Regions from separate parts of the Homo sapiens genome. Here region 1 is linked to region 2. The links come from fine-mapping of genetic effects on plasma protein levels. A gene starts in region 2. The other region holds a variant in brackets. All regions are shown on one strand. Distances are between the middles of the regions.

Region 1 (15,935 bases), 140 kb before region 2:
ATGCAGTTTCTTAATAGTATTGATGTTCTTTACCATTTGGCATGTTTTTGCAGTGGCTGGTACTGGTTTTTCCCTTCCATGTTTAGTGCTTCCTTCAGGAGCTCTTGTAAGGCAGGCCTGGTGGTGACAAAATCTCTCAGCATTTGCTTGTCTGTAAAGGATTTTATTTCTCCTTCACTTATGAAGCTTAGTTTGGCTGGATATGAAATTCTGGGTTGAAAATTCTTTCCTTTCAGAACGTTGAATATTGGCCCCCACTCTCTTCTGGCTTGTGGGGTTACTGCTGGGAGATCTGCTGTTAGTCTGATGGGCTTCCCTTTTTAGGCAACCTGACCTTTCTGGCTGCCCTTAACATTTTTTCCTTCATCTCAACTTTGGTCAATCTGACAATTATGTGTCTTGGAGTTGCTCTTCTTGAGGAGTGTCTTTGTGGTGTTCTCTGTATTACCTGGATTTGAATGTTGGCCTGCCTTGCTAGGTTGGGGAAGTTCTCCTGGATAATACCCTGAAGAGTGTTTTCCAACTTGATTCCATTCTCCCCATCACTTTCAGGTACACCAATCAAATGTAGATTTGGTATTTTCACATAGTCCCATATTTCTTGGAGGCTTTGTTTATTTCTTTTTACTCTTTTTTTCTCTAATCTTGTCCTCTGACTTTATTTCATTAATTTGATCTTCAATCACTGATATCCTTTCTTCCATTTGATCAAATCAGCTATTGAAGCTTGTGCATGTGTCACGAAGTTCTCGTGCCATAGTTTTCAGCTCCATCAGGTCATTTAAGGTCTTCTTTACACTGTTTATTCTAGTTAGCCATTCATCTAACCTTTTTTGAAGATTTTTAGCTTCCTTGTTATGGGTTAAAATATGCTCCTTTAGCTCGGAGAAGTTTGTTATTACTGACCTCTGAAGCCTATTTCTGTCAACTCGTCATTTTCTGTCCAGCTTTGTTCTGTTGCTGGCGAGGAGCTGCAATCCTTTGGAAGAGAAGAGGCGTTCTGGTTTTTATAATTTTCAGCTTTTCTGCTCTGGCTTCTCCCCATCTTTGTGATTTTATCTACCTTTGGTCTTTGATGATAGTGACCTACAGATGGGGTTTTGGTGTGGCTGTCCTTTTTGTTGGTGTTGATGCTGTTCCTTTCTGTTAGTTTTCCTTCTAACAGTCAGGACTTTCAGCTGCAGGTCTGTTGGAGTTTGCTGGAGGTCCACTCCAGACCCTGTTTGCCTGGGTATCACCAGTGGAGGCTGCAGAATTGCAAATATTGCAGATCAGCAAATATTGCAGAACAGCAAATATTGCTGCCTGATTCTTCCTCTGGAAGCTTCATTCCAGAGGGGCACCCACCTGTATTAGGTGTCTGTCGGCCCCTACTGGGAGGTGTCTCCCAGTTAGGCTACATGGGGGTCAGGGACCCACTTGAGGAGGCAGTCTGTCCATTCTCAGAGCTCAAACACCTGTGCTGGGAGAACCACTGCTCTTTTCAGAGCTGTCAGACAGGGACGTTTAAGTCTGCAGAAGTTGTCTGCTGCCTTTTGTTCAGCTGTGCCCTGCCCACAGAAGTGGAGTCTATAGAGGCTGTAGGCCTTGCTGAGCTGTGGCGGGCTCTGCCGAGTTTGAGCTTCCTGGCCACTTTGTTTACCTACTCAAGCCTCAGCAGTGGTGGATGCCCCTCCCCCCACCAGGCTGCAGCCTCACAGGTTGATCTCAGAGTGCTGCACTAGCAGTGAGCAAGGCTCCGTGGATGTGGGACTTGCCAAGCCAGGCACGGGAGAGAATCTCCTGGTCTGCTGGTTGCTAAGACCATGGGAAAAGCCCAGTATTTGTGGGAGTGTACCAATTTTCCAGGTGTAGTCTGTCACGGCTTCCCTTGACTAGGAAAGGGAAATCCCCCAACCCCTGTGCTTCCCGGGTGAGGTGACGCCCCACACTGCTTCTGCTTGCCCTCCGTGGGCTGCACCCACTGTCCAACCAGTCTCAGTGAGATGAACCAGTTACCTCAGTTGGAAATGCAGAAATCACTCATCTTCTGTGTTGATCATGCTGGGAGCTGCAGACCTGAGCTGCTCCTATTCAGCCATCTGGGAATGTTTATATATGGAGCAGGGAAGGCCGGTCATCCCCACCCTAATCTTATGATGCAAATGGGCTTTCCACTTGGCTGGTGCCACCTTGTCTGCTCCTTACTGTACATGTGGCTGGCAAAGAGAAGTTAGAGCCACCATTTTGATCATGCCTAGTCCCAGATAGCATTTTTCTTCTATTGGCACAACCACGGGCATTCACTTGTGCAAGCTTCCAGTTTCCTTGTTTATGTCTACAGCTCAATTTTACAGGCTGCTCTTTGTTAGAAAAGAAAATGATTTGGGGGCACTTTTCATTAAAAGGAAAACCTTACTGAGGACTTCCTTACCCTCACTATCTGCCTAAATAATTTCTTTTTAACTCCTATATCATGATGACTTAATCACTTCCCAGAAGCCCTTCTCTTAACACCACCAAATGGGGATTACATTTCCACCCAAGAATTTTGGGGCAGATTCAAACAATAGCAATAAATGTGAATATCAAGTACATATTTGTAGAGAAAATATTTTTAAAATGTATTTTATAAAGTGTTTTTCAAGATACCTTTTTAAGATTTATTTTTAATTTTTATAGATTTAGTGAGTATAATGGCAGATTTCTTTTTTTTCTTTTTTCTTTTTTTTTTTTTTTTCCCTGAGACAGAGTCTCGCTCTGTTGCCCAGGCTGGAGTGCAGTGGCGCGATCTTGGCTCACTGCAAACTCCTCCTCCCGGGTTGCAGTGATTCTCCTGCCTCAGCGTCCAGAGTACCTGGGACTACAGGCGTATGCCACCATGCCCAGCAATTTTTGTATTTTTAGTAGAGACGGGGTTTCACCGTGTTAGCCAGGATGATCTCCTGACCTTGTGATCTGCCCGCCTTGGCCTCCCAAAGTGCTGGGATTACAGGCCTGAGCCACCGCACCCAGCTAGATTTCTTACATGTGCAGATTTCTTACATTTCTCCTGCCCTCCTCCTTTTTGGAGTCTCCAGTGTCTATTATTCCACTCATGTGGAATAATAATACATGTGCAGGATGTGTAGGTTTGTTACATAGGTAAACGTGTGCCATGGTGGTTTGTGCACCTATCAACCCATCACCTAGGTATTAAGCACCCTGCATGCATTAGCTGTTTATCCTGATGCTCCCTCTCCCCCAACCCCTGATAGGCCCCAGTATGTGGTGTTTCCCTCCCTGTGTCCATATGTTCTCATTGTTTAGCTCTCACTTATAAGTGAGAATATGAGTATATACCACATTTTTAAAATTCGGTCCTCCATTGGTGGATACTTAGATTGATTCCATATCTTTACTATTGTGAATAGTGCTGTGATAAACATACAAGTGCAGAATCTTTTTGATATAATGATATTTCCCCCTTTGGGTATATACCCAGTATTGGGATTGCTGAATAGAATAGTGGTTCTATTTTTAGTTCTTTGAGAAGTCTCCGTACTGTTTTACATAAAGGTTGTACTAATTTACATTCCCACAAAGAGAGTAAAAGTTCCTATTTCTCTGCATCTTTACCAACATCTGTTGTTTTTTCAACTTCTTAATGATAGTCATTCTGACTGGTGTAATATGGTATCTTATTGTGGTTTTAATTTGCATTTCTCTGATGATTAGCGATGTTGAGCATTTCTTCATGTTTGTTGGCTGCTTATATGCCTTCTTTTGAAAAATGTTCATGTCCTCTGCCCACCTTTTAGTGGTGCTATTTGTTTTTTCTTGTTGAGTTCCTTGTAGATTCTGGATATTAGCCCTTTGTTGGATGCATAGTTTGCAAATATTTTTTCCCATTTTGTAGGTTGTCTGTTTATTCTGCTGATTGCTTCTTTTGCTGTGCGGAAGCTTTTTAATTTAATTAAGTCTCATTTGCCTATTTTTGTTTTTGTTGTGTTTGCTTTTGAGGACTTAGTCATAAATTCTTTGCCTAGAGCCAATGTCCAGAAGAGTTTTTCCTAAGCTTTTGTCTGGGAATTTTAGTTTTGGGCCTTAAATTCTTCTAGAGTTAATTTTTGTCTATGGTGAGAGGTATGGGTCCGGTTTCATTCTTCTGCATATGGCTATCCAATCTTCCTAGCAACATCTGTTGAATAGGGTGTCCTTTTTCCAGTGTATATTTTTGTTGACTTTGTCGAAGATCAGTTGGTTGTAGGTATGTGGCTTTATTTCTGGGTTCTCTGTTCTGTTCCATTGATCTATGTGTCTATTCTTATACCAGTACCATGCTGTTTTGGTTACTATAACCTTGTAATATAATTTGAAATCAGGTAATTTGATGCCTCCAGCTTTACTCCTTTTTCTTAGGATTGCTTAGGAGCTATTTGAGTTCTTTTTTGTTTCCATATGAATATGAGGATTCCTTTTTCTTTCTTTTTTTTTTTTTTTGAGACGGAGTCTCACTCTCTTGCCCAGGCTGGAGTGTAGTGGTGCAATCTCAGCTCACTGCAAGCTCAGCCTCCCGAGTTCATGCCATTCTCCTGCCTCAGCCTCCTGAGTAGCTGGGACTACAGGCGCCCACCACCACGCCCAGCTAATTCTTTTTGTATTTTTAGTAGAGACGGGGTTTCACCATGTTAGCCAGGATGGTCTCAATCTCCTGACCTCGTGATCTGCCTGTCTCGGCCTCCCAAAGTGCTGGGATTACAGGCGTGAGCCACCGCGCCCGGCTGAGGATTCTTTTTTCTAATTCTGTGAAAAATGATGTTGGTAATTTGTTAGGGATTGCATTGAATCTGTAGATTGCTTTGGACAGTATGGTCACTTTAACAATGATTTCAAGATATCTTTAGCTTTAAAAATGTATTAAGCATGATAACTATAGTTAATAATAATGAATTGTATTTTTCAAAATTGCTAAGACAGTAGATTTTAAATGTTCCCACCATAAAAAAATGCTAAGCAGATGAGGTGATGGAGATGCTAATTAGTTTGATTTACTCATTCCATAATGTATACATATATCAAAACATTGCATTGTACCCCATGAATATATATATAATTTGTCAATTAAAAATAAAAATTTAAATATGTATTGAATGTTTCCATCAAATTTCATATGCCTTAAATAAAGGAGAACTGTGCCTCTGAAGAGTCTGGCAGGTGGCCCCTTGGAGGAGGCCAGCTTCAGAGCTGTCTCCTCAAAGAAGACGTGGATGGGGTAGTTCATTTGTTTTTGAACACAGAATGGATACAGCTGTAGGAGGGGCCTTTATCAACAACCAGTCCCACTCTGCAGCAGTTAATTGCCACTTCCTGTCTAGAGAGTGCAGCACAATAGACTGAGCCCATCTGCTGTTTGCATCCCCCATGCCACCCACATGGGCATTAAGGTGGTGGAGGTCTAACAAGAAAGACTGATAGCGAGTCTGCCAGTGGGAGACTGGTCCATGGGTCTCTGTTAGCCCCAGGAATGGTTTCCACAGGTCAGGCTGACCTTCTGTGGCTGCCCTGCAAAGGGCCACACCTGTGCCTGCAAATACAGCTGCTGGCGTCTTCACATGGCTCAGCTCCCTGACCTGTAAACCTCTAACCGGAATGTTCTTTGGTGGTTAGGTCTGATGTTTCTGTTACAGGAAAAGGTTCCCGATCCAGACCCCAAGAGAGGGTTCTTGGATCTTGTGCAAGAGAGAATTCAGGGCGAGTCTGCAGTGCAAAGGGAAAGCAAGTTTATTAAGAAAGTAAAAGAATAAAAGAATGGCTATTCCATAGACATAGCAGCCTCGAGAGCTGCTGGTTGCCCATTTTTATGGTTATTTCTTGATGATATGCTACACAAGGGATGGATTATTCATGCCTCCCCTATTTAGACCACATAGGGCTCCTGACGTTGCTATGGCATTTTTTAAACTGTCATGGCGCTGGTGGGAGTGTAACAGTGAGGCTGCCCAGAGGTCACTCTCGTCACTATTTTGGTTTTGGTGGGTTTTGGCCAGCTCCTTAACTGCAACCTGTTTTATCAGCAAGGTCTTCATGACCTGTACTTTGTGCTGACCTCCTATCTCATCCTGTGACTTAGAATGCCTTAACCACCTGGGAATGCAGCCCAGTAGGTGTCAGCCTCACTTTACCCAGCTCCTATTAAAGATGGAGTTGTTCTGGTTCACATGCCTCTGACATTTCCACAGGCTGCTTTGTGTAGACTTTTAAAGAAAAAACAACCCACAAACCTATCTAAAAACAGTTGAACTGATGCAAGTTCTAAAAATGACTGAAAAATAAGCTTTATGGGGTAGGAGCCCTGTCCAAAGCAGTGCTTTCAGGGGCCATGTGGGAAATCCACACCCACGCAGTTAGCTAGTTGCATCTCTTTACCCACATTAGATGGCGATTTTAATTTGTTTTTAACTTAGCAAGAATTTGTTCAGTGATGATTCACTTTCACCAGCCTCCATGTCAGAGAAGGAAGACAGGTCATGTTCTCAAATTGTCCTTCCTTTTCACTCCTTCATAAAAATCCTGTTGTCCCCTTCCCTTTCTTCCTTGCTCAGCCATGTCCTCGCTCCCTCCCAAGCCTTCAGGAGTCTTTGTATCTGCAGAGAAATGGGGAGCTCAAATTAGTTAGGCAGGTCAAAAGAGGCAGAAAGAGGAACAGGGGTGGGCAGAGTTTCCACAAGTGGCTTTGCACGTCCCTGAGCTGCACCTTGCACCAGCAATCCCCTACCTATGCTTCACTAGCAATGACAGCGGGTCAGTGCAAAATAATCCAGGAACCACAGGCTGCCTGGGGGCTGCTGCTGCCTCTTGCTCAAATGAACATTATTCTCTGCTGGGAGCGGCGAGTCTACAAGCATGGGTGAAAACATCATGTCTCGGATTCAGAATCTGAGAAGGAGCAAGAAAGGAAGTCATCACAGACACAGAAATATCGGGAACCTGAACGAACTTATGTAGTGGACATTGGAGCATTCTTTCTTTTGGTGCTGGCATTCCCAGTGTTAGAAGGGACAGTATTCAGCCAACACATATTTATCAGGTAGTAGCTATGTGTCAGGCTTCTGTGCTAGCTGCTGAGGTGCTGTGAGTGACAGTCCTGCTTTCACAAAGCTCATAGTTGAGAGCAGTAGTCTCCAAACATTAGTCATTTTACATCCCTATAGGAAAAACATTGAGCTGAACTACTCTGTTTTTTATTTATAAATTATGTAATATATTGCTATGTTATGCACATCAAGTAAAATGATTTGTGTACATTACAAAATGAACAGGCAAAATAAATTAATCCAGAGGAGTTACAAATGTATATATCTATATAAGTTTCTAATATTTTCTTCTCACCTTCCAATAACTTATTTT[A/G]CACAAGTTCTGGGATGCAGGCACCCACTGTAGAGATGACAGATGGTATTAAGAGTGTGATCTAGTGTGAGATTTTCTGGGTTCTGATGTTGGCTCCAGCCCATACTTTTTGTGTGGCCTAGGATTTGTTTCTTAAGTGCTCGGTCTAAGTTTCTCCATGTGTAAAATAGGTTTTATAATAATACTTTCGTTAGGGTTTTAGTGAAGATGGAATGAGGTGATCCATGTAAAGTGCTTAGAAGTCTTCCTGGCATTTGGAAAGAGTGCAATAAATGTTATTATTTTGATTATTACAGTCTCTTCAGAGAGAAAATCACTAACCAACTAAGTATTTAATTTCAACTGTGATGAGTACCAAGCAGGGCTAGTCTAGGATGCCAGGAGGGTGTATTGGGAAGACTTAACCCAGTCAGTTTTGAGCTGTGTTTGGAGTTCAGGAGGGAGCCAGGGTTGGAGCAGGGGCAGAACATTCCCAGCTGAGAAACAGCACCTGCGAAGGCTGAGGCAGGAGAGAACTTAACTCCTTGGGGGAGAAGACGAGGGCCCAGTAAGAGGGGAAGAACACTAACAGGTCCAATAGGAGAAGCAGGCTGGCTGGAGACCATGCAGGTCTTCGTGGGCATTGTATCCATCAAGGATCTGTTACCAAAACCAAAACCCATTTGCAGTCGTTTCAGCAGAAAAAGGAGTTTATTAGAGGATATGAAGATACTTTCAAAATTTCTAGAGGGCCAGAAAGTCAGGCTTGTAGGCCAGCAGGTCAGAACAAGGCTCAAACCAACCACACCCTGGGAGTGAGTCAGAAAGGGTCTCTGCAGCTGCCTCCAAGTCTAGACCCCCTCAGCACAGCTCATGCCATTGTTGCCCCTAGGATCTGGACACACTACTGCCACCCTTTCTAGCAAATGGATTCTGCACAGTTGGCTTGCTCATGGCCTCAATTCCAAATGAAGCTGTTTGTTAGACTATCTGATTGGCAGAGCCTGGGTCACATGGTGAGGTCTAGCTGCAAGGGAATCAGGGAAAGTCAGTTTTCTGGTTTCAGCTGTGGGGAGGTAAGAACCTCTAGGGTGGGAAAGTCCCCAAATATGGGAATGATGTCAAGCATTTTGGGCTTAACTGCTTTCACATCATCACATGGTCTGCTGTGGTCAGGAAGGCTGGAGAGGGGCAGAGAGGGGCAATCATCTTTGTAGAAATAAAAAAGAATAAACAAGCCTCAAATAACCAAACCCCAAACCCAACCATTTGGGAAATTAAGAAATGCTACCTCTTGAAAACTTTGTCCATTTATTTGCAATAAGTCTAACAAACCCTCTCAAGAGGTGGTGCTCAAGGGAGCTGTGCAGTGGGTTTGGATGAATGTGCAACCAACGCTGAACAAACATCCCTATTAAAGGGCGTGTTGTTCCAGGTTACAGTTTCTCTCAAGCTAAGGGCAGATCCTTTCTCTCAAAGACACAAACTGGAAAGCCCTGACTCAGGTGCCCAAATTAGGTTTGTGGGGTGGTGGGTCAAGGATTGGAAGGACCCAACAGGACAGAAGTATGAGATGGAAGCATTTTGGCATATCCAGAGGGAGATGGGTTAAGGAAGCAAGATGAAGGTCGGGCAGAGAAGCTGCTTTCTTAAGAAAAAGCTGACCGGGCACAGTGGCTCATGCCTGTAATCCCAGCACTTTGGGAGGCCGAGGTGGGCGGATCCCCTGAGGTCAAGAGTTTGAGACCAGCCTGACCAACATGGAGAAACCTTGTCTCTACTAAAAATACAAAATTAGTAGGGCGTGGTGGTGTATGCCTGTAATCCCAGCTACTTGGGAGGCTGAGGCAAGAGAATTGCTTGAACCTGGGAGGTGGAGGTTGCGGTGAGCTGAGACTGCGCCATTGCACTCCAGCCTGGGCAACAAGAGCAAAATTCTGTCTCAGGAAAAAAAAAAAAAAAAAAAAAAGAAAAAGCTGCATTTTTTCTTAAAGCAACTCCTAATGAGATCATGATTTTCATTGATACAAGAAGCTGGTTGAGTTGGCAGAGCGTTTTTTTGTATTAATGGAAACAAATTACAGCTTAATTCAGATAATAAATAATGCACTTCTAAACACAAAGCAAAATGTATTAAACAAATGGCTGTGGAATAGAAGGTCAAAATGAAACTGTGGTAAGGTGATTTCTCTGCAGCTCAATATTTTCTGTTTATAGTCTGACTTGGAGCCAAAAATAGGATTCTCATTCAGTTGTATTATTAAAAATAAAACGATCTAGTAAGTTAAAAATGGAAGTCTGATGAATCCTCTAGTATTATGTATATAATATAGGCATGTCAAGAGAGAAAATATTAACTAATTATTTTAATGATTTAATAAAAACCAGAATTTCTTAACTGATTATCTAGCAAGTTAAAAACATTGCACACCACTTAAACGTAACAAACTTTTTCTTATCCACATACCTACACACGCACCACCTGACATCACTTGACTATGTTTTTGGTATCAGCCTCCCTCTGAGACTTGTACTAATTTTATTTCAGTGCTTTTCTTCTACAACGGTGGTTCTTAAACTTTTGGGGAGCTCATAAATCCCTTTAGTATTTGACTGTCTCCCTTAAGAATTGCAGTCTCATCTTACTCCTGCAACAAATTTCAAGCAGTTTCGTGGACCGCCAATTAAACTTCTGCCTTAAACCTCAGCTTTCTCCCCATAAATCATGGCAAAGGGAGACAGGGAGCTCAGGCTGGTGTCGGTGATGACATCTGCAAGGATGGAAAGTCCCCACTGGGACTGCTTGTATGTAGTCCCCTGAAATACTGGATTCAGTGGTGCCAGCTTAATGGCCAGGAGAAGTTTTGTACCAGGAACTAACCGATTAGCGTTTTTTTTTTTTTTTTTTTTTTTTTGAAACAGGGTCTGGTTCTGTCATCCATGCTGGAGTACAGTGTACAGTCTTGGCTCACTGCAGCTTTGGCCCCCTGGGCTCAAGCGATCCTCCCACCTCAGCCTCCCGACTAGCTGGGACTGCAGGCATGCGCCACCAAGCCCAGCTAATTTTTGTATTTTTTGCAGAGACAAGATTTGCCACATTGTCCAGGCTGGTCTCAAATGCCTAAGCTCAAGCGATCTACCCACCTCGGCCTCCCAAAGTGCTGGGATTATAGGCCTGAGCCACTGCACTGGCCTGATTAGTTTTTAATAACTATAGTGTGCTAGGTAGAATGGAGGTGGAAATGGCTACAGCACTGCTGCCTTCTGGTTGCCTGGGACCGTCTGTGTCTGCCCCACCTCCATAACAAAACAGACCCTGCCAGCACCACTACAACGCCTTCCCCCCAGGAATCCTGCGGTGTTAGTGCTTTTGAAATATACATTCTTGTTAAGTTCTTAATGATGAAGAATAGCTTCCTCATTGAGTTTCTACTTCTAAGTATACATATACATTTTGAGAGGAAGGAGCTTTTATGTTTTAACTCAAAGGGTGTCTAATGGCAAAGTCCTCTCTGATTGGTCTGGGCACGGGGGACAGCAATTGGGAGCAGAGTTTGGGGATGGGTCCTTTCTAAAATCCCTAAAACTCCTGAACAGAAGATAGTCATTTAATTGCAAAATTACACATAAGGATGAAAATGAAATACCTTTTTGGAGGATTAACAGGAAATATAAATTTCTGTAAGGAGGTAGTGGAAGTTCTTTTCCAAAGAGGTGTTGTGGTAAGGCTTCAAGGTTTCAGATAAAAAGTCTGGTTCTAATCCTGATTCTGCATTCTACTAATTCAGTGGAGATAGAGGAACTTTAGGGCTCCTCAAAAAGTTCAGGCCTCACTTTGTGGCTTTAAGTTTTGAATATTGCCAATGTAGCCATGGCAGTAATTTTGGGAAAATTTCCAACTTCCTGAGCCCAGTTTCCTCATCTGTAAAATGACACACCTGCCTCCCAGTGTTGTTATGTGGAATTAAGGAAATAATACCTGCTATGTATTTAATCAGGTCTAAGGTTCTTATTTCCACCCATACATTAGAAAGGTCTCTGATATTGGGATGGCATCCAGGGGTCTAGACAACCCCAGTTTTATGGGGCCTGAACTCTATATTATTCAGGGACCTTTATAAAAAAGAGAAAATAATACGTGCAAAATTAGGTAAGAACATGAATATTTGTTTAAATGGGAAAATCACAACAAACCACAAATTTTAAAAAGGTGATATAAATCACAAACAACATAAAATACCATAATATTTGTAAAAATTAACTGCCTGGCCCACTTCTGTTATACTTCTTTGCCCTGCATTTTTGGAGGGGAGTGGGCTGTATGACAATGAATTCGTTATGTCTGTTTTCTATAGAGAGAATAGACAGTTCAGTCTTCCTTCTCAATGGTTGACGAAAATTTATTTTTTACTATCAACAGTAAAATGTGTGTTTTCCAGCTTCACAACTGTTTTTGGTAATGTCATATAAATCTTGAGAGTTTTTTTTGTCAAATTTGGGGAAAACCTCTATGAAGTTTCTTTCCTATATGAACTATGAGATTTGGGAAAATTTTCCACAGACCAAATTCTGGCTCACACACTTCACACCTTGTTTATTTTCTGCTGCCCAGGCCATATGCTGCTGGCGAGTGTGGTGGGATGTATTTATATTGGATACAGCCTGGAGCCCTGCACTGGAGCTTCTTACTGCCAGGAGAGCTAGTGTGGTGGAGGGGAGAAGCGGTGAAGCCATTTCTATCCCAGCATGCCCAGCAGTAAGTTAACTGCACAGACCACATACAAACGTCCCACTGAACCCAGACTAAATGTATCCCCAGCTCAACTTCCCCTTTAATAGGATCCCCAAGTTGCCCATAGCCACTCCAGTGCCACCCACATAAGGGGAAGTGTGACAGAGGGGAAGTCAGAGTGGAAAGAGACAGTGGTCTAATTGATTGCAGTTAAAATATCTTTTGCAAATTTTACAAAAATATATGGCCACGTGAACACACTGCTGGCCCCTCTCCAAGAACATTGGAAGGGCCCATGCAAATGAAGGGCCCTGAGGCTGAAACTCTCTTAGCTTCCCAGTAAATACACCCTGGATGGCATCTTTCAATTAATCGGCAGTAGGTTTGCTTTCCTGCTGGGCGTGTTACAGTTGGTGGCAACTTAGATTTGGTATCATATATGTAAAGCACCCCATATGGTGCCTGGCACACACTGGAGGCTCACTAAGTGTTCCTTCCTCCCTTCCCTTAGTGAAAAATCAGCAAACAGAGCTCCATCCCTGGCAGGGGACTATGTCCTTCAAGTGTGTTATTGAAGAATCAGCCTTGTAGAAGTTGATATTCCATTAGTTTGCCTATAAAATTTTTAAATTGCAGTTTTTGAATTTATGGATCTTAGTTCAAGGTCAATAAAAAGTGATTGATGGGTAACCAGCGTGTGCCCAGGGACAGAAGATGTCCTCCTGTTGCTTTGTCAGTGGTCGATGATAATGTACTCGTTTCCAGCCAACCCCTAAAAAGGCAAACCCATCGCTAAGAAACAGAAGAAAAAAGAACAAAATGGACTACACTGTATTAAAGACACCTGAGTTCTGTAGAGGAGAGTTTTCCCAGAATCAGCCCAACACTGCCCTATCACCTACCTGAAGGGCATGTGCCAGACAGTCTGAGCTCATCAGATTCAGGACATGAGGAAAGTTATCTTGGTTTTCCTTTCTACTCTCCCTTCTTCCCTTCACTCTTTCCTTTCCTCCATCTTGTCCACATTTTCTAGACTGCTTACTGTCACTTTCTGAAACAAGAAAAAGATTCCACTTTTCATTGCTTATTAATGCTAAATGACTACCCATTCCCTCGAAGCTATTAATATATATATAAAGAAGTAGGGCATGGAGTGCTGAAATGCAACTGTGTGTCACTTAACAATGTAGATATGTTCTATGAAGTGCATTGTCAGGCGATTTCTTTGTGCAAACATCATAGAGTGTACTTGCATAGCTCTAGATGGTACTGCCTACTATACACCTGGGCTGTGTGGTATAGCCTATTGCTCCTAGGCTATAAAACTGTACAGCATGTTACTGTACTGAATATACCATAGGCAGTTGTAACACAATGATCAGTATTTGTGTATCTAAACATAGAGAAGGTTATGGTATAAAAGATAAAAAATGATATACTTGTAAGGACACTTACCATAAGTGGAGCTTACAGGACTGGAAGTTGCTCTGGGTGAGTCAGTGAGTAAGTGGTGAGTGATTGTGAGGGCCTGGGACATTACTGTACATTACTGTAGACTTTATAAACACAGCACACTCAGGCTACACTAAATTCATTTTACTTTTTTTGAGACAGTCTCACTCTGTCATTCAGGCTGGAGTGCAGTGGCATGATCTTCGCTCACTGCAACCTCTGCCTCCTGGGTTCAAGTGATTCTCCTGCCTCAGCCTCCCTAGTAGCTGGGCTTACAGTTGCCCACCACCATGCCTGGCTAATTTTTGTATTTTTAGTAGAAATGAGCTTTCACCATGTTGGCCAGGCTGGTCTCAAACTCTTGACCTCAAGTGATCCGCCTGCCTTGGCCTCCCAAAGTGCTGGGATTAGAGGCGTGAGCCACTGTGCCTGGCTTAAATTTATTTTAAAACTCTTCTTTCTTCAATAATAAATTAACCTTAGCTTACTGTAACTTTTTCACTTTATAAGCTTTTTAATGTTTTTAACTTCTTTTGGAATAACACTTAGCTTTAAACACAAAGGCATTATACAGCTATGCAAAAATATTTTCTTTATATCCTTATTCTATACATTTTTTTCATTAAATTTTATTATTATTATTTTTACTTTTAAACTTTTTTGTTAAAAACTAAGACAACTACACACACATTAGCCCGGGCTTAATCATCGGGGTCAGGATCATCAATATGTCATCAGGGGATAGGAATTTTCCAGCTCTATTCTAATCCTATGGCATCACCATCATACATGCAGTCTGTTGTTGCCTGATGTCACTGTGTGGCACATGACTGCAGGGGGTGTGGGAAGCCCATTTCTGAGTCAGTTAGAAGGCATATATATTTTCTTCCTTTGCCGTCACTTTACGTTTGTAATTCTGAGGCTCTCTACACGGTTCACTTGGGACTGTATGTTAAGGCTGCTGTTAACTATAAAACAGGTTAAACTGTATTTCAGAGTAGGCATAATTAATGAGGGTGTTATTTCAGGAACAATGATAGGGATTGTGAATAGTCAAGATTCATTCTAGAATGAGCAAGAAATTTGCTGGAAAAAAGAGGTGTAATGAAAAAGGAAGCTTCTTTCTATTTCTGATGAGGAGCTTGGTATGTCTGTAGTTTGATTTTGTAACAATTGTTTTCCCTGAAGTAATTTGGATGCTGCATTAGTCTGATTATTATGATTTCCTGTTTAGAACCCAGATACCTTCTCGATATGTCCCCAATAGCATATTTCTGGAAATGACTTCAACCAATTACATTAGCTCTCATTCCCTTGGTTTCTATGTGGTTGACCAGACAGGAATCAGGCTGCCTGAGTGTGCAATCCAGATAGCAAGAGGCAGTCGGTAGAGAGAGTGTGAAATTGCCCTGAGATACTGTGTGGTCTGCAGGCGGGTCCAAGTGAAGGAATGTGATGCAGCTGAGGCCTCGGGGGTGGGGCCGGGGGGCATATTTTTGATGTCTGAAATATCTTGACCAACTGGCCTTTCAGGGATAATTTTGATGACCATGTTTCATCTGGTGCCGAGTCTACTTCTGGTGCTTGACTCATGAAGGTATCAGTGATGACAAGGATAATGAAATTTATCTTCAAACCTACTCCCCTTAAATGTAGTAGATGTAAGCACTGGGACAAATCTGAAAAGAGTCTTCAGCATCTCCTTAAGGTTACTACTATTATGGATAATAGTGCTGTATCATTTACAAAACCATAGCCATATTGTGCAGCAGGTATTATTATTCCTGTTTTACAGATGTGTAAACTGAGGCACAGAGAGGTTCAGGGATATACTAATGTTGCCTACCGAGTGAGCAGTGGAGGTGGGATTTGACCCCAGTTGCCTGAATCCAAATCATCCCGTTCCCATCTTCTCCCCTAATGATGTCATGCCCCATGCTGCATCGGTGGAGGGGTTTTATGGGAGAGTGACAGGAGCCTTCAGCTCCTTCTGTGGTACCCCTTGCACTCTGTGAATCCACCAAGGGAGGAGAACACTCCAAGACTGCCCCAAAGGGGTATGTGCCCTCGCCTGCGCAGATGCTGGCTGTCAGAGGACTGAGGAATTTCCCCAGGGGGAGATTTTCCCAACCACTACATTAACCTGTTCAAAGATCCTGTCCAGCTCTGCAAGATTAGCTGAGATCTGAGGCATTTAGCATGGAAAGAACACATTCTTCTAAAGAGTCATTTCAGCCATTCTACCTATGCACATCTGAGTTTAAAAAAGGAGAGAAAGAGGGCAAACCTACTTCAAAGTGGCCTATTTGGCAGTTGACCATTGGAAGGCTAATGATAATGACAAAAACTGAAAACAGGAGGCACTCTCTTATGGTGTCTTGTCCTCTAGATATGCATAAGATAT
Region 2 (15,841 bases):
ATTTATTTTGTAGAGACAGAGTCTTACTATGTTGTCCAGGCTGGTCTTGAACTCCTGAGCTCAGTGATCCTCCTGCCTTGACCTCCCAAAGTGCTGGGATTACCGATGTGAGATACCATGCTCAGCTTCTTCCATATTCTTTGTTTTTGTTTTTGTTTTTTTATAAAGAGACAGAGTCTTGCTCTGTTGCCCCGGCTGGAGTGCAGGGGCATAATCTTGGCTCACTGCAGCCTTGACCTCGCCAGCTCAAGCAATCCTTCCTCCCACCTCAGCCTCCCAAGTAGTTGGGACTACAGGGAAGTGCCACCATGCCCAGCTAATTTTTTTGTTTTTATGTTTTGTAGAGACAAGGTCTCACTGTGTTGCTCAGGCTGGTCTTGAACACCTGGGCTCAAGCAATCCTCACACCTCAGCCAATACTCTTAAAGATAAAAAAGAAATCACCACTAGCTTTCTTCTCTCTAGACCACATAGCACAAACTCCCTGTGGCTTTACTTATAAGTCATACCTTAATAATTTTGATTATTATTGGAACCCTTGTCAGAAGCCGTATGTCTTTTCTTAAAAGGATGACTAAGATGAGATGGTGTGCTATGTAAGATCTGATTTTAAAAGAGCAAAAACAAAACCCCTAGCTCTTTGAAATCCATGATTTATATAATGCATTCATTTTCATATAGGCCAACATTATATTGGTTTTTTAAAACAATGCTTCCACATAGGTAGATTATTCTTAATTTTAGGTCATTTTTCTTTTTCCACATTAATATTTCCTCAACTTATTTTTGGGTGGGAGGATTCTGCCCAAAAGTTAACCATTTTTATTCATCTACTTTTTGCATCAGGTTTTTCTCTTCACAAGGAACAAAGACCCTCTTGAGTTATCTAAGGCCATGGGGCTTGTTGTAAGGGTCCTTGTGGACTACAATGGAACCAAGCACCACCAGAAATCTTGGCAGCTTGGCACAGGGCCACTGTCTGGCCTCTCATGTTCATTCATGTGTGTCTCCTCCCGTTCCCCTATTCTCTTTCATTCCGCATTTCTATCTCATTCATCTCTCTAAAGTGACCACCTTGCTCTGCTCCCTCAAAGCTCCTGTTCTCTGTGGCCTTGGCTTGCACATGCACTTGGCCACAATGATCTCTCTTCTCCTTTCCCCACATCGTAACTTTCCAACTTAAGTTCTGGTTGCCAACTGGGTCATTCTGTCTTCCAAAGCAAATTCCCAAGAGTGAGGATTTGATAGGACCAGCTCATTTTTTTCATTCCAGCCTGTGGAGTGACTGAGGCTCAAGAGTGACCCAGCACGTTGGGTCAGGTGTTCACCTATGTCCCTCTTCATGCTGGGCATGTGAAATTGTCATTCAAAGAACATGCAGCTGGGAGCAACTGATCAGGCATTGTGATTGATAAATATCTGGTACATCTTAAGTGAACCGAATAGTTTTCATAGAACTATTCTCCCCACTTTCTGAGAGGGAATTTTCATTATCTCCCAGAATATTAACAATTCTACTAAATTTATTGTCATATAAAAATTGGGGGCATATATTCTAATGCTTTTTATCCACCTAATAAATACTGATATTAAATAAGATTGATTGTAAAAATGAACCCCATGGGAGTTTCTTCTGAATATCCCAGGTGGATACTGTCCCATTGAACACTGCTACCTTTTGGGTTCAATCCATAAGCCAAAACTGTAACTCATACCAAAATAAAGTCAAAGAGTATACTTTTTCTTGATGGGTAACCTATAGAGTCCCAGGTTCTGGGAAGCGGTTGGGAGTGGGGGTTGCTTGCACAGGCTCTGGAGCCAGCCTGCCTGGGATCAAGTCCTGGCTTCAACACTTCTGAGCTGTATGGTGTGGGGGGGCTTTTGTGACCCCGCTGCTCTTCACTTTTCTTGTATATAAAATGGCACCGCTAAGAGTATTTGTGAGACAGGCTATTGTGAGGATTTAAAGAATTAATCAACCTAAGATGTTTTGAACAGTATCTACTACAAGGTAAATACTCCACAGAATAGTTACATTGTCACAATTAATTCCATAACCTTTTGTTGAATACCAACTATATAGCTTAAGCTAGTTTCAGGCGGAGTTCTGTGAATTTTACAATCACAGTGGTCTTTTTATTAAGCCATTTTTAAAATTTTATTTTTTTAAATTGACAATAATTGTACATATAACAGACATGTTTCAATACATATAATGTATCATGGTATAGGGTAATTGCCATATTCATCATGTCAGACATCACTTCTTTGCTTTGGGAACATTTAATATCCTCTTTCTAGCTGTTTGAATCTATATGTTATTGATTGTAGACATCCTACACTGATACAGAACACCAGCATTTATTCCTCCTATCTAGCTGTAATTTTGTATCCTTTAAAAATCTCTCCCTATGGCTGCCTTCCCCCTACTTTTCCGAGCCTTCAGTCACCTCTGTTCTGCTTTTTACTTCTATGAGATCAACTCTTTTTTAGCTTCCACATATGAGCGAGAACATGCGAAAATACAGATGGATTTCCTAGTCGCTTTCTATCAGTCTATGTGGCCATAATTTTATTATAGAAAGAAATTAGACAAGTTGCTATGCCAAGCTCTTTACAGAATCACATTGGTAATTTTCTGTCATCTTCATATGTATTATTTCATGAATTTCCTATTATGAATATTTCCAACTGCCGGGATCAAATTGAGAACAACTGCTTGATTTTTACTGTCTTCCAGAATATTAGAGACTTAATTTAATTAATTCCAATGAAAGTTTCCTTAAGTCAATATAAAATATTTTACAAAGATCATTCTGTGAATCTTACAGTGATGTTGTTCTTTGCATTTCCCCCACTGCATCACTTCTGGGTGTAGTGACTTGGAGCATAAATATATTGGTATGAGAGTCTATACTGAAATAGACACAGCAGGCCTTCTTGGATCCAAGTTCAATAAAAAATGAAGTTTGGCATTGCTAGTGATCATCCTGAACTAAGCTGCAAAAATTCTGCTCTAAGGTTTTGTCAAACTAAATAGACTTATATTACTAAGTATACATATCAGATTCACTGCCTATGAGAGGCAGACTCTCATAACCTAGTGGTAAACATTTTGATTAGTGAGAAGTGTTTTCACATCTGCTTATTTGAAGCACAAGTGTTTTTCTCCTCCTCACAGAAAAATTAGGATAAGGCAAATATCATCAGCTCCATTCATTTCCACTTGCAGTTTCAGCTAGTATGTAAATACAAGGCTCGGAGGACCAGAAGATGTCTGAAATTAACACAGTATTATAACTGCATTGCCCAATGCTAGGGACTGATGGGAAATTGGCATTCCTAATAGAGCTGTGGTGAATATTCATTTTTCCATCTGGAAACTAAGTATGTGTGAATTTAGGAGATTAAAAACTGGTGTGACTTCAGCAGTATAACTATATAAACTTTATAGTCTTGAGAGTGAAATTCAAATCAAAAATGTGTTTCTGTAAAAGTATTGAATGAGAACTAGAACTGAAACTAATTAAGTCCGTTTGTCAGAAGTAACATAGGGCACAATTACATTTTAAAGAGAACACAGGTGGGGGATCCAAGACCATACTTTGATCACTATTTTAGAGACCATAGGAACTTGGAGAAGTTCTCTGCTCAATTCCTCCACAGGATTCCAATTTCAATAAGAGTTGCCAGGATCTCCTTAGAAATACAGAATATTGGAGAAATGGAAGGAAACAGTAACTGGAAGACAAACGTTATGCCATAAATAAAATCCTGTAGTTAGAGCTTGGAGTGAAAACCTTCTGGGGATCGACAGCTCATTCCTCTCTTAGAATTGCTCTTTAGAAATTAATGGGCTTGGCTTTGTATCTCCAACTGTTCTTCACAAATGAACCAAACTGGGAATCAGTTGGAGTCACTGAAGCTTAACACAACTCCAGCTATTGTTTACATGGCTCCCATGAAACCCCTGTGGCAAACTGATTAGATTTACAGTTCATTCGATAAGCCTGTCTGCTCATGGCACATAAGGCAGTGAACCTTTTCACAAAATGAAACTAGAGCTGGAGAGGGGGGAAAACACAAAATCTTTAATGAAGAGGGAGGCTAAGAGACTTGGGTAGAAGATCTTTTAAGTTTGTAGAAAGCCTCCCTTGTATTGGAGTTCGTAGGCTCCACATTGAATTGACACTTTGGGACTTGCCCTCCTGCCTACCAGAAACTCTACAGTGCCATTTTCAAATTCTTTCTGATCATAGGTATGTTTAACGCCAATAAGAACTAAGGATTGGAAAAGACTCTTTAAAGTAAAGATGAAGTGGGCCAGGGAGCACCGTGTGGATCCATGGAAGTGATCACCAACCACACGATGTCAGACAGAGCTGCTTTTGTTTCTAGCTATCTCCCATCCCCACCCTAAACCAGAGGCTTGGGGGAAGTGTGTAAAACCTATCCCAGTGGCACATGCCTTGGACCTATTATTGAGTGGTTGGGAATTAGTCATGGAGCCATAAAGTCATCACCCCCAAAACTCTTTTTAGTCCCTTTTTAGCCAGTATAACTGATCTCACTTCTCAAAAAGCATGACTCAATCACTTTGTAGACCCTGGCCTAGCACTGCAGACTTGCTCCCACTGTGACAATGGCAGAGGAAGTGGTCAGCTTCTGAATAGAAGCTGACACCCACCATCAGAAGAGTCCCTTGTGGGAATTTTACACCATCCATTGCTTCATCACAGACTGCCCTAAAACTTAGTGGCTTGAAGCAACAACCATTTTATAAATACTTCTTAATTCTGTGAGTCTGTGATTCAGGTAGGGCTTGGCTGGGTGGTTCTTCTGCTCCATTTAGTGTCAGCTGGGGATACTCGGTTATTCAGCTGGTGGGTAGGCAGGTTTGTAGATTCCAAGATAGCTTTACTTCCACAGTCTTGGCCTGGACAGCTAGAAGGATGGGCTCAGTTGGACCTCTCCCTTTCCATGTGGCCTCATATTCACTCCACCATGGAAGCTAGGCTTCTTACATAGTGGCTTAAGGTTCAATAATGAGTTCCCAAGAGTCCTAGGAATAAGACATAAGATTTCTTATATTTCAGTCCTGAAATTCCCAGGTCATCATGTCTGCTAATTTCTATTGGTCAAGAAAGTCACTAAGTCCAGTTCAGATTCAAGGGAAAGGGAAGTAGACCCCACTTCTTAATGAGAGGAGTATCAAAAAAATCTGTAGCCATCTTGAATCTGCCTCAAACACTTTCTTTTGACCTTAGAAAAATAATTCAGTATTCTATATCAAGTCATTTTTCACATATCTTACCCAAAAATGAAAAAGAAAATAGAAAAAAATACTCTTTAGAAAAGAAACCCAAATTAAAAAAAAAAAAGGCATATTCCTTATTCAAAAGATGCCATATTCTCTGCCAGGCTTGGTTTCTCTTAGAACATAGGCTCTAAATTTGGTTTTGTCGGTGCTCTTCTCCCCACCAACATGGCTTTTACTTCTTTTTTTTTTTTTTTTTTTTTTTTTTGAGACAGACTCTCACTCTGTCACCCAGGCTGGAGTGCAGTGGTGCGATCTCGGCTGACTGCAACTTCTACCTCCTGGGTTCAAGCAATTGTCATGCCTCAGCCTCCCAAGTAGCTGGGATTACAGGTGCCTACCACCACGCCTGGCTAATTTTTTGTATTTTTAGTAGAGATGGGGTTTCACCATGTTGGCCAGGCTGGTCTCAAACTCCTGACCTCAAGTGATCCGCCTGCCTCGGCCTCCCAAAGTGCTGGGATTACAGATGTGAGCCACGGCGCCTGGCCCATGGCTTTTAATTCTATCATGAACTCAGTACTTAATAATATTCATTAACACTTGAGAGATCCATTAAATGGAATATATGACTGGGAGTAATAACCTAGCTTTCAAATGGATAACTCTTGGCTGGAAATTTTACTGTCAAGCTTGAATAAATCACAGAGAAAATTGATGTTTAGGTAAAACAACACAGCCCATAAGTATTAAATTCTGGGACTCACACATTGAATGCTTCTTCCCATTCCTTGCATCATGGTCTGCCATCTCATACTATAACCATACTCCTTCACATATCTCCGATGTCTCCAGAATTCTATGTACACTATAGTTGTGGCTTTGAAGGACACCATATCATCCTTGCAGGTGTGAACAGAGGCCATTTCCTTCAGTCTTTTCATTTTCATTGCAATGAAAAGGCACATTCATAGTATTCTTCAAGCTCATAAACCTTAGCCATGTCTGCTATGATACTCAATGCATGCCTTCTCCCAAATATTTTCCTGAGAAGACCTTGCTGGCATTGAGCCTCTTACCATCTGGATATGTACAGTTGGAATAGGGAGAGGGCAGGGTGCAGAGACTGACCCAGTTATTTACCATTGGGTGGGTTGGGCAGTGGAGGGAGAAATGGTTAGAGGAGTCTATCATCTCAACCATTTCCTTTCTAGTTCATGTCACCATGTCTTTGTATGGTGACTAAAGGATGGGACACATTGAAGATGGTAGCTTTATGAGTATCTTGGCACAGTAGACCAAAGAGTGAAACAAATACATTTTCCAATTTATGGAATCTACCCCTCCCAGAACCCTGCTGCTTTGTTCAAGGGGCTTCTCAATTTGCAGTCATCATGGCCCCCTTTCCAATCTACACTTCTCTCCCCATTTTCCCTCCAACCGCCCCAAAGTCCTGCTCTAGGAATTTCCATTCTAGATTATGCAGCTCATCTTAACTTTTTCCTCGATATCTTTGGATTGTAGACAGCATTATAGCACCAGAGACCTTGAGTCCAAAATGGTGCCTTGCTAATCAGCTGACTTGATGCAGTTTTTCATTTCCATGAGAATTACTCATCTGGGTAGACAGCATGTACCCTTTGGATAAAGTACACTATTGGGTATGCTCCATTTTAAGAATGTAACACAAGGATGACACATTTTCTAAAAATAATAACAACAACAAAAAAATCCTTTCAACTTCAAAGAAGCCTTTTGGCATAAAAATGATGATTGGTAAAAACCCTTTGGTAACATACATGATTTTTTGGTAGCTTCTGTACTCTAGGGCCAGTGTTTGGCATCAGGGATAGAAAAATGACCAAGGCATGGTCCCTACTCTGAAGGAACTAAGGATTTAATAGTAGGCATCTATGTAGGCAAATAAATCACAGTGTCCCTCAGTGTGAGATAAGAGAAAGGGATATGCAGACTGTTGACTAGGAAGGGAGAGCTGGGGCAGATGGAAAGAGTGTCTACTTAATGCCCACCTTCCTCTTTGAATTTATCGTAAGTGTAACCAAACCTAGATTCTGCTACTTGCTTCCCAAAAGCCAAAACTTGAGAGGCAAGAGTTGGTGGGAGGAAAAGCAGGTTTATTCGGAGATCCAGTAAACAAAGAAGATGGTGGACTAGCATTCTAAAGTACCATATTAAGACAGTACAAATTTCAGGCTCTTTTTATGTTAAAGACAGAGGGAAGAAGAGAGGTTTGGGATCAAGAGGTGACCAACGACCGCAGACATCTGGACGCCAATGAGGGTCTGAGGAGGTTGGGAACAACTCTGTCCTTGGTCAGGTCACAACACTCCTATAAATCTTTAACAAAACATAGTTAATTGTTTACATACTTTCCCTTTAATCCCAGAGTTCGTTGCAAAAACTACATGATTGTTGTTTTTGCATATTTTCTCAGTGCTCCAAAATTATCCTAGCTTACGTGCAGGCTAAAGGCTCCTTAAACAAAAATGGAGTTTGCTATGTTAGTTCTTTTGCTGTTTCACTGTTACATAAGTGGCTGATGGCTGGAGTATAATCTATAGCTATAAATCCTTTTGATTAACATTTGAAAAGGTTTCAACTTTGGAGTATATTTTCAAAATACACATAACTCTCAAATTATTTTCCCTGCATTGGAATTATTTTAGAAATACAGATGAGAACTGTTTATAAGCACTAAAGACATTGCTAGCTGACTGTAGTCAGCACATAAAGTCTCAGAGAAATAGATGTATTTTGGTTATTTACAGAGTATAAATTAGGAAATTCTAAAAGCCCTCCAAAATCAAAGAGGTGACTGTCTCCCATACTCTTACCTCCTTTTCAACCAATGTGGCATTTACCCAACTGTTTCTGTAACCAACAGCAACCAGGGGTGGGTTGGCTACTTGGGGAAAGTAAACTTCTGGGGCAATGGATTGGAGGCTCTATTTCCTAGTAGGGCCTAAGGCTGAAAAAATTCACTGTGGCTTATTGGATTAAGTGGGGGCACAAATCCCCCTAAGTAGGCTTTCTGTGCTTTGCATCCTTCTGTAAGCAGGATGAACAAGTAGCATGTGTTTATGCCTGAACTTCCCAACCTAACTGACAACGTGTTACTGGTGTAACACGTTTTTTTCCCCACCAGAAAACACATTGGCTGAAGATCACACTTTACAAACTGCTACAGTTCCTTGTTTGGGAAGCAGGAGATTTGGTCTCCATGGAGAATTTCTCTGCCAAGGCTGAAGAAGGGTTCAATGGAGTGGTCTGGGTTATGAAATCAGAAGTCGGGAAATCCCAAATTTTAATTTGGTCAGAGAGACTGACATTCTTTTTAGGAAAAGTCCCTGCTTTAGTGTCTCCAGACATAAAATTAGGACACTGGCTTTTGCTTTGTGGAGATGCACTGACTTTAGGGTTTGAAAAGATTTTTGAACATGAAATGTGATATAAGTATCTGTGAACCCATTTTTCTCCTTTTTCACCAGGGAAAGTTCAGAAATATGTTGTATAATGCAGAAACGTTTGGCCCTTCACTTTTGGGCATGTGATCTGGGACAACAAAGCCATTGCAATAGGGACATTCTTGGCTATTAGGTGGTTCAGATTTCTACGTTCTTTTCCTCCTTTCTTTGTTATTTGTTCTATAGAGTAGTGTGTTCACAGGGCAGAATTTATTGCATTGCTTCAAATGTTTTGTTAATGTGCCATAAGAAGGGACCTGTTAAATATAGTGACTACTTTTCACCTTCCAATGACTTGCTTTCCAGATTCAAAAATGTTGAAGAAATTTTAAAGTTCAAGATTTGATTTCCCTATCAAGTGACATGTCCTCATAACTATCCTGTCAGCTTATTTTAAGTAGTATAAGCTGCTTTAATATTAGCAGCAAGATGTATTCAAGAAGATGAAGCTCCAAACAAAATAATGATAAGTTGGCTGTGATTTTGGATAATTCATAGTGCTAACTTTCTCTTTGGCTGAGCAGGTTGTGATAAGGACGTGTTCAGTAATGTCCCTGTGCTTTTGTCTCTTTATTCTCCCCAGGCCTCCTAGCTAGCTTGTCATCTGAACTGTTTGTCTCTTCTGAAGTTCCGGCGGACGCAGAGTTTAGGACCCACTCTTACTTCTCCAAATCCTGGCAAAAGACAGAAATGGTTCAGACCCAGAGTGAAGCACAAACTTGTTTCTATGCAGACCTTGGCATCAGGAAACTATCATATGACAGAGATTATAGATGGCTCTTTAACAACATGGGTTTGAACCACAGGGGTCCACTTACACATGGATTTTTTTAAAAAAAAAACTCTCAGATTGAAAATACAGTATTTGCGGGATGTGAACCTGGTGAATGTGGAGTACCGACTTTGTCTATATGTGGATTTTCAGGGCTGACTTCAGGATTTGAGTATGCATGGATTTTGGTTATGTGCAGGGGTCCTGGAACCAATCCCTTGTGTATACTGAGGGACGACTATATTTGCCAAGCTATAACGATAAGGAATGGTTTATGCTGACCATTTAAATGACGCAAATATGGGGCACAAGTGACCTCATTTGCATATTGCCTCTCCCTATGTTTAATCTCCATTATTTGAAGTCCTCTCTTGTTTTATTTTCTAGTATACTTTCTTCACCTACATTTTCACAGCTACTATTTTATTTCAGCGTGCATTTAATAGTAGATATTGTACTATATGCTTCACTTATATAATCTCACTTAATCCTTATAACAACCTGATGAGGTAAGAATTCTGGCTATTTTACAGATTAGAAAATTGAGTCCTAGGCCAGGGGAGGTGGCTCATGCCTGTAATCCCAGCACTTTGGGAGGCCAAGGCGGGCAGATCACGAGGTCGGGATTTCGAGACCAGCCTGACAAACATGGTGAAACCCCGTCTCTACTAAAAATACAAAAATTAGCTGGGCATGGTGGCATGTGCCTGTAATCCCAGCTGCTTAGGAGGCTGAGGCAGGAGAATCGCTTGAACCCGGGAGGCAGAGGTTGCAGTGAGCTGAGATTGCACCACTGCACTCCAGCCTGGGCGACAGAGCGAGATTCACTCTAAAAAAAACAAATTGAGTCCTAAAGAAGTTGGGTAACTTGCTCCAGGCCCTCAGCCGGGAAGAAGGTGAGGCTAAGCTGCCTTCCATGAGTGTTTGCCTTAATCTCACCTGATACACTCCACAGATCACTGGCTTAAGTCCTAACTCAAAATCAGCCTTTCCCCCCACCCCACCAACACAGGAGATATTTTTATAGAAAGCAATGAATTTTTTTCTTTAAAGAACTTAATTTTAAAATGTCTACCCCATGTTTGGTCTTTCAAGAGTGCATTGCGTGTGGCATGAGATGTACATAGCTTCATGTTTGTTTCTAATGAAGGTGGGGATGGAAAACCAAATTTGTCAGGTGGGGATTTCACCCCAGCCTTATGACTCAGTTTTAGATTTAACTTGATTCATTTAAGGTTGGAGTTTATTTCTGGCTGGCAAAATATGGCTTCCTGGCTTAGAAAAATTCCCTCAAAACAAACTTGAAAAAAGTTTGCCCACCTAAAATGGCAACGTGAAACACTCTACATTTTAATGAGCTCATTGTAAGTGAATTAGAAACATTCAAATGCAATTTACTTCAAAATAGATCTAGGTGTTAAAATAAGGAACAGCTGGCAGTATGGAGTCTCCTGATCCCAACCAAAGGCAGGTTTGCCCCTATTAAATGGTCTGTGACTTAGAGCGAATAAAATGTCACTTTTTTTTTTAAACACAAAAGCATTAAGTTTCAGTGTCGAAGAGAAAACTCTGAACACTAATATAAAAAGACAAATAAAAAAACAGTATGGGAAAACTCTGTTTCTTTCTCTGGAACAAAAAATCTGCCATTGAATAGTAGAATCCCTAGTCAGAACAGTTTATTAAGTTTAGTTCACGAAACTATATTGTGGTCAATGCATAGCTCATAAAAGCCGTATCTTGAAAGACTGTACACAGGTGGGAGCTCTGGTTTTGATGCAACATTCTAAGTGCTTTAGATAACATCAACTCTACTAATTCTTAAGAGAAAGCAACTACTGAGGGGTAGATGACATGTTGTTATTTCCGGTTTACAGCTGGGAAAACGGAGACATGGAGAGATTAAATGGCCTTGTGGCTAGCGTGGAGCAGAGGCAGGATCCGTAATAAGGAACTTGGGTTCCAGAGACCATGTGCTACCCACTCTCATGGATGGCCTCACATTAAAGGGCTCCAGGAAATATGTAAAACTGTTGGGATAATGTAACCACAGAAAGAGAATAAAGAGATGTTTTCATTAACTAGTTTCTTGAGACGGAGTCTTGCTCTGTTGCCCAGGCTGGAGTGCAGTGGTGCAATCTCGGCTCAATGCAACCTCTGCCTCCCGGGTTCAAGCGATTCTCCTGCCTCAGCATCCTGAGTAGCTGAAATTACGGCACCTCCACCACGCCCGGCTCATTTTTGTATTTTTAGTAGAGATGGGGTTTCGCCAAGTTGGCCAGGCTGGTCTCGAACTCCTGACTTCAGGTGATCTGCCTGCCTCAGCCTCCAGAAGTGCTGGGATTACAGGCATGAGCCACCACGTCCGGCCTAATAACTAGTTTTTATGTTGCATGAAAAAAGCAAATATATTCTCTGCTGTTAGTGATGATGAAGTCAATATAACAGTGAACATGATAACAAAATGATTAAAGTAGGTCTCAGGGAATGGAAAATATATTAGGTATGACATGGATTCTTCAGACTTCTCCATAAATGACCAATATTCTAAAATTATCTTGAAAGCTCTTCTACAGAGGGTGGGATATAGTACAAATAAATAATTTTATTTTGAAAAGTGTACTGGTAAAACATAAGAATTCAAAAGCTCTCACCTGAGCAAATGCCTCTATGCATAGCTTTCACTGCCTTTTAATTAAAAATGTTCAGTTTATAGAAGTTTCTTCTGTGATGTGTTATTTCGTTTTCTAATCGGCCCTTTTTTTTTTTTTTTAGACACGGTTCTGCCAGTTAACTGGATTTGTAGGGCCCTTCTTGCACTGTGCATGTCTTGTTTTCATAGGCATGTGTGCTAGCACACACACACACATGCCCCATGCCCTATATACTCAGCACACCTTTATCACCAAGCTATCTCTCTCCCTTTGGTTCCAGACAAGTATCTTCCTGTCCCAGATTTTGTTTTCCCCATTAAAACTGTGTACTCCCTCCCCAGGTCTTTAATTTTTAGGGCTCTGAATTCTTTTATTCCTTTGGCCCCAGAGATTGATGTGTCCTCAGTGGATCCAGAATGACCTCTAAACCTCCTTTTTGTAAGACACTTTTGTAAAACACCCAACTCTGTTTTACAATGGAAATAACAACTGAGTCACAAAACTTGATTCTTTTTTTTTTTTGAGTCAGAGTCTTGCTCTGTCACCTAGTCTGGAGTGCAGTGGTGCAATCTTGGCTTACTGCAACCTCTGTCTCCCCATTTCAAGTGAGTCTTGAGCCTTGGCCTCCCGAGTAGCTGGGATTAGAGGTGCCCATCATTAGACCCAGCTAATTTTTGTATTTTTAGTAGAGACGGGGTGGTGGGGTTGGGTGGGGGGGAGTCTCACCATTTTGGCCAGGCTGGTCTCGAACCCTTGACCTCAGGTGATCCTCCCACCTCGCCTCCCAAAGTGCCAGGATTATAGGCGTGAGCCACTGTGCCTGGCCAAAACTTGATGGTTATAGTCAGAAGGAGCTGACAATCTTCAAATAAATTATGTCAAGAGTGAGGGTTTGACTCAACTTCAAGTATCTTCGGCATCTATGTTGAGAGTGAGAGTTTGACTCAACTTCAAGTAGGTAGGAGACAGGTGGCAGGTAGGAGCACTGAGCTAATAAGTTTTCCATTTGCGATGGGCACTTGACATATTCCAGAACAAGACTCCCAGCCTTGTTTTTCTTTATCTGAACCTCTTCCCACACAAGCATAATTTGCTTCAGTAGTGCTATACATGTAGTTGTGATATTTAAATTTAATATTATTTAGAATTTCAATTTGAGCACAATCTGTGTTTGGGATAAAGTAAATAACTCTGGCCATTCATACATCATCCACTAAACACATCTTGGGAAGACAGGAATCAATGGTCCACAGAATTACTCTTAGAAGCAAGGGGTGATATTCAGAATAGTTAACAGCTGGTGTGACATGGGGATATCCAAGCAGAGGGAGCCCTTGCTGCATCAGGGCTTAAGGGCTTAAACTTTCATTTGCCAGGTTGTGAGGAAGTTGCTTAGTCCTAGGAAAATGGGCAGGGCAGGGATGGTTGCCTGTGAGGAACTAAGGGCAGCAGCTTTTATCAACCAATTCAGAATATTTCAGTAACCATTACAGCCAAATCACCAGCTCCTGGCTGAGTACACTCTGCAGTGAGGTTCATTATACTATGCCTATAATAGTCTGGACCCCATCTCTCTGGAATAGTACATATTTTACACGAAGGGAAAAGGCTAACTTGCAACTTATTTGCATGAAAAATCACGTTGCAAGTACTTCTTAGTTTACTAGATTGTCTCCAATAGTTTCTCAACCTTATCAAGATATATTTGTTAAAACTGTGTGCTCTCCAAAATCATCTACTGAATTTAAACCACTGCACCCCACTTTGGACTATAATTGACTGGAGTTACTGATTGGAAAGGAAGTGGTACACACCCCTAATATACTGACGGACTTACTCTGACAGCTGCTACCACCTGTGGGGACCCTTGATGATGTTCACGCAGCTTTTCTGAGTGGCACATGCTGTTCTCTTGAATACTCCTTGAGGTGAAGAAGAGGCCACCCCTACCCCTATGCACACACAGCTCCTGCTCTTTCCTGGGGCTGCACCCTGCTTGTATTTCCAATGCAGGGATGTCAGATTCCAAAGAGGGCTCCCCAAGGCATTCCAGAAGGCTTCAGGCCAGCACGTCCCAACCTTTTCATGCCATGGGACCCCTTTGGCAGGCTGCTGAAAACCATGGGGTTCTTCTCAGAATAAGGGTTTTAAATACATAAAAGAAACCACAAGAGGTTACAAAAAAAGCCAATAATATTGAAATGTAGCTAACAAAATGTTTTTAAAAATTTGTGCTAGAGCAATATATATGCTTCATTATTGACATATAATATCTGGCTGATTGTCTAATAACTACTGTTATTTGAGATACTTGCAACAACTGTGATGTGATGTAAAAACCTATGGTTTCTAGTGATTACTAAGTCATAAATACTTATCCTACTGCTACTGTAGTTTGTTGTCTACGTTCATAATGGCAAAACGTGCTAAATGTCAGAGGTTGGTGAAAATTAAGACGTAAATTTTTTCTCATCCAAGTTCACAGTACTCTTGAATTAATTACCTCTCCTCGGGTTAAGAACCCCTGCAGGATAAGGTTGCCCCTAGGGCCAACACCTCACTGGAGCCCCGCCTCATGTCCTGGAGGCAGGAGCCTTCATGCCACCTACACAGAACTCGGAGCTGTCTCTTGGCCCAGCAGTTCTCCCCACAACTAGTTCTGAAAGTCCGGGGCTAGGAAAGAACGGCATCGTCGCCTGAGCTCCTGGCGCCACTTTAAACAACCCATCCTTGACTTGCGTGACTTCTTCCACAAGCTCTCCTGGTCACCTGGGCAAAATCCTAGGTGATCTGGGGACAAGGCGGAACTTCGGTTTTCTGATCTGCAAAAAGAAACACCTACCTCATAGGACTGTTAGGATGAATTGAGGTAATGGCTGGGTTGTGTACATTATACAGCACTATCAAGGTGTGCGCTGTGATCATTTTTGAGGGTTGTTAGGTGTTTGAGGACCCAGAACAGTCTACACAGCTGTAGTCCCCAAGTGTTGGGCACGCCTTAAGCGCTCCATAAACACCTGTAGAAATGAATGAATGACGTATGCATCTGCACGTGGGCCCACATCTGCAAGAACAGGCTGCTCAGGCCATGAGGCCCGGTGCATCACCTGCACTTCTCTTTATAACGGGTAGTAAAGTCTCCCTCGCTCTGTGCTACTCGGCAACCACAATTCTGTCCACAGAGGGCGGCGCAGTGGGGCTGCTTCGCCGCGAGCTCGCCTCCGGGGCTCCCACGTCGTGGCTTCCGGGCAGGTACCGGGCAGCTGGAGACGCCAGAGCCGGCGGGTAAGGTGCGGGCGGTGCGCCGGGCCGCGGGCGCGCAAGGAGGGGCGAGAGGGTGGGGAGGGGCGGGGCCGGCGTCCTCGTCACTTGATAAAACGCCTGCGAGTCTCCAGAGAACAACGGGCTCATTCAGCGGTCGCGAGCTGCCCGCGAGGGGGAGCGGCCGGACGGAGAGCGCGACCCGTCCCGGGGGTGGGGCCGGGCGCAGCGGCGAGAGGAGGCGAAGGTGGCTGCGGTAGCAGCAGCGCGGCAGCCTCGGACCCAGCCCGGAGCGCAGGGCGGCCGCTGCAGGTCCCCGCTCCCCTCCCCGTGCGTCCGCCCATGGCCGCCGCCGGGCAGCTGTGCTTGCTCTACCTGTCGGCGGGGCTCCTGTCCCGGCTCGGCGCAGCCT

Alleles and levels. Positions count from the first base shown, and alleles are read on the strand shown. Strength reflects both the effect of a copy and how common the allele is.
In carriers of allele G in region 1, the plasma level of the protein whose gene starts at base 15,569 in region 2 tends to be higher than with A alone (moderate association).

Evidence for each region. PIP is the chance, under the fine-mapping model, that this variant and not a neighbour inherited with it causes the effect. Protein levels are from antibody-based Olink assays in UK Biobank. Linkage for the fine-mapping came from a reference panel and not from the study's own genotypes, which makes the PIPs less certain.
Region 1: its variant is fine-mapped to the plasma level of the ITGA6 protein (UK Biobank, PIP above 0.99).

Annotation. Positions count from the first base shown.
Region 1 is chr2:172,268,778-172,284,712 of GRCh38, forward strand. LOC107985960 (a long non-coding RNA gene) reads left to right here. Exons shown (of 6, transcript XR_001739773.3): 2 at 11,960-12,103. Among named protein-coding and RNA genes, the nearest start is that of ITGA6, 150 kb to the right of the region's middle. RefSeq lists an enhancer at 1,170-1,743. The variant A/G (reference allele first, on the strand shown) is at 7,369.
Region 2 is chr2:172,412,018-172,427,858 of GRCh38, forward strand. It overlaps ITGA6 (integrin subunit alpha 6), which reads left to right and starts at 15,569. Exons shown (of 26, transcript NM_000210.4): 1 at 15,569-15,841. The coding sequence starts at 15,772. RefSeq lists an enhancer at 3,643-4,144 and a silencer at 15,517-15,596.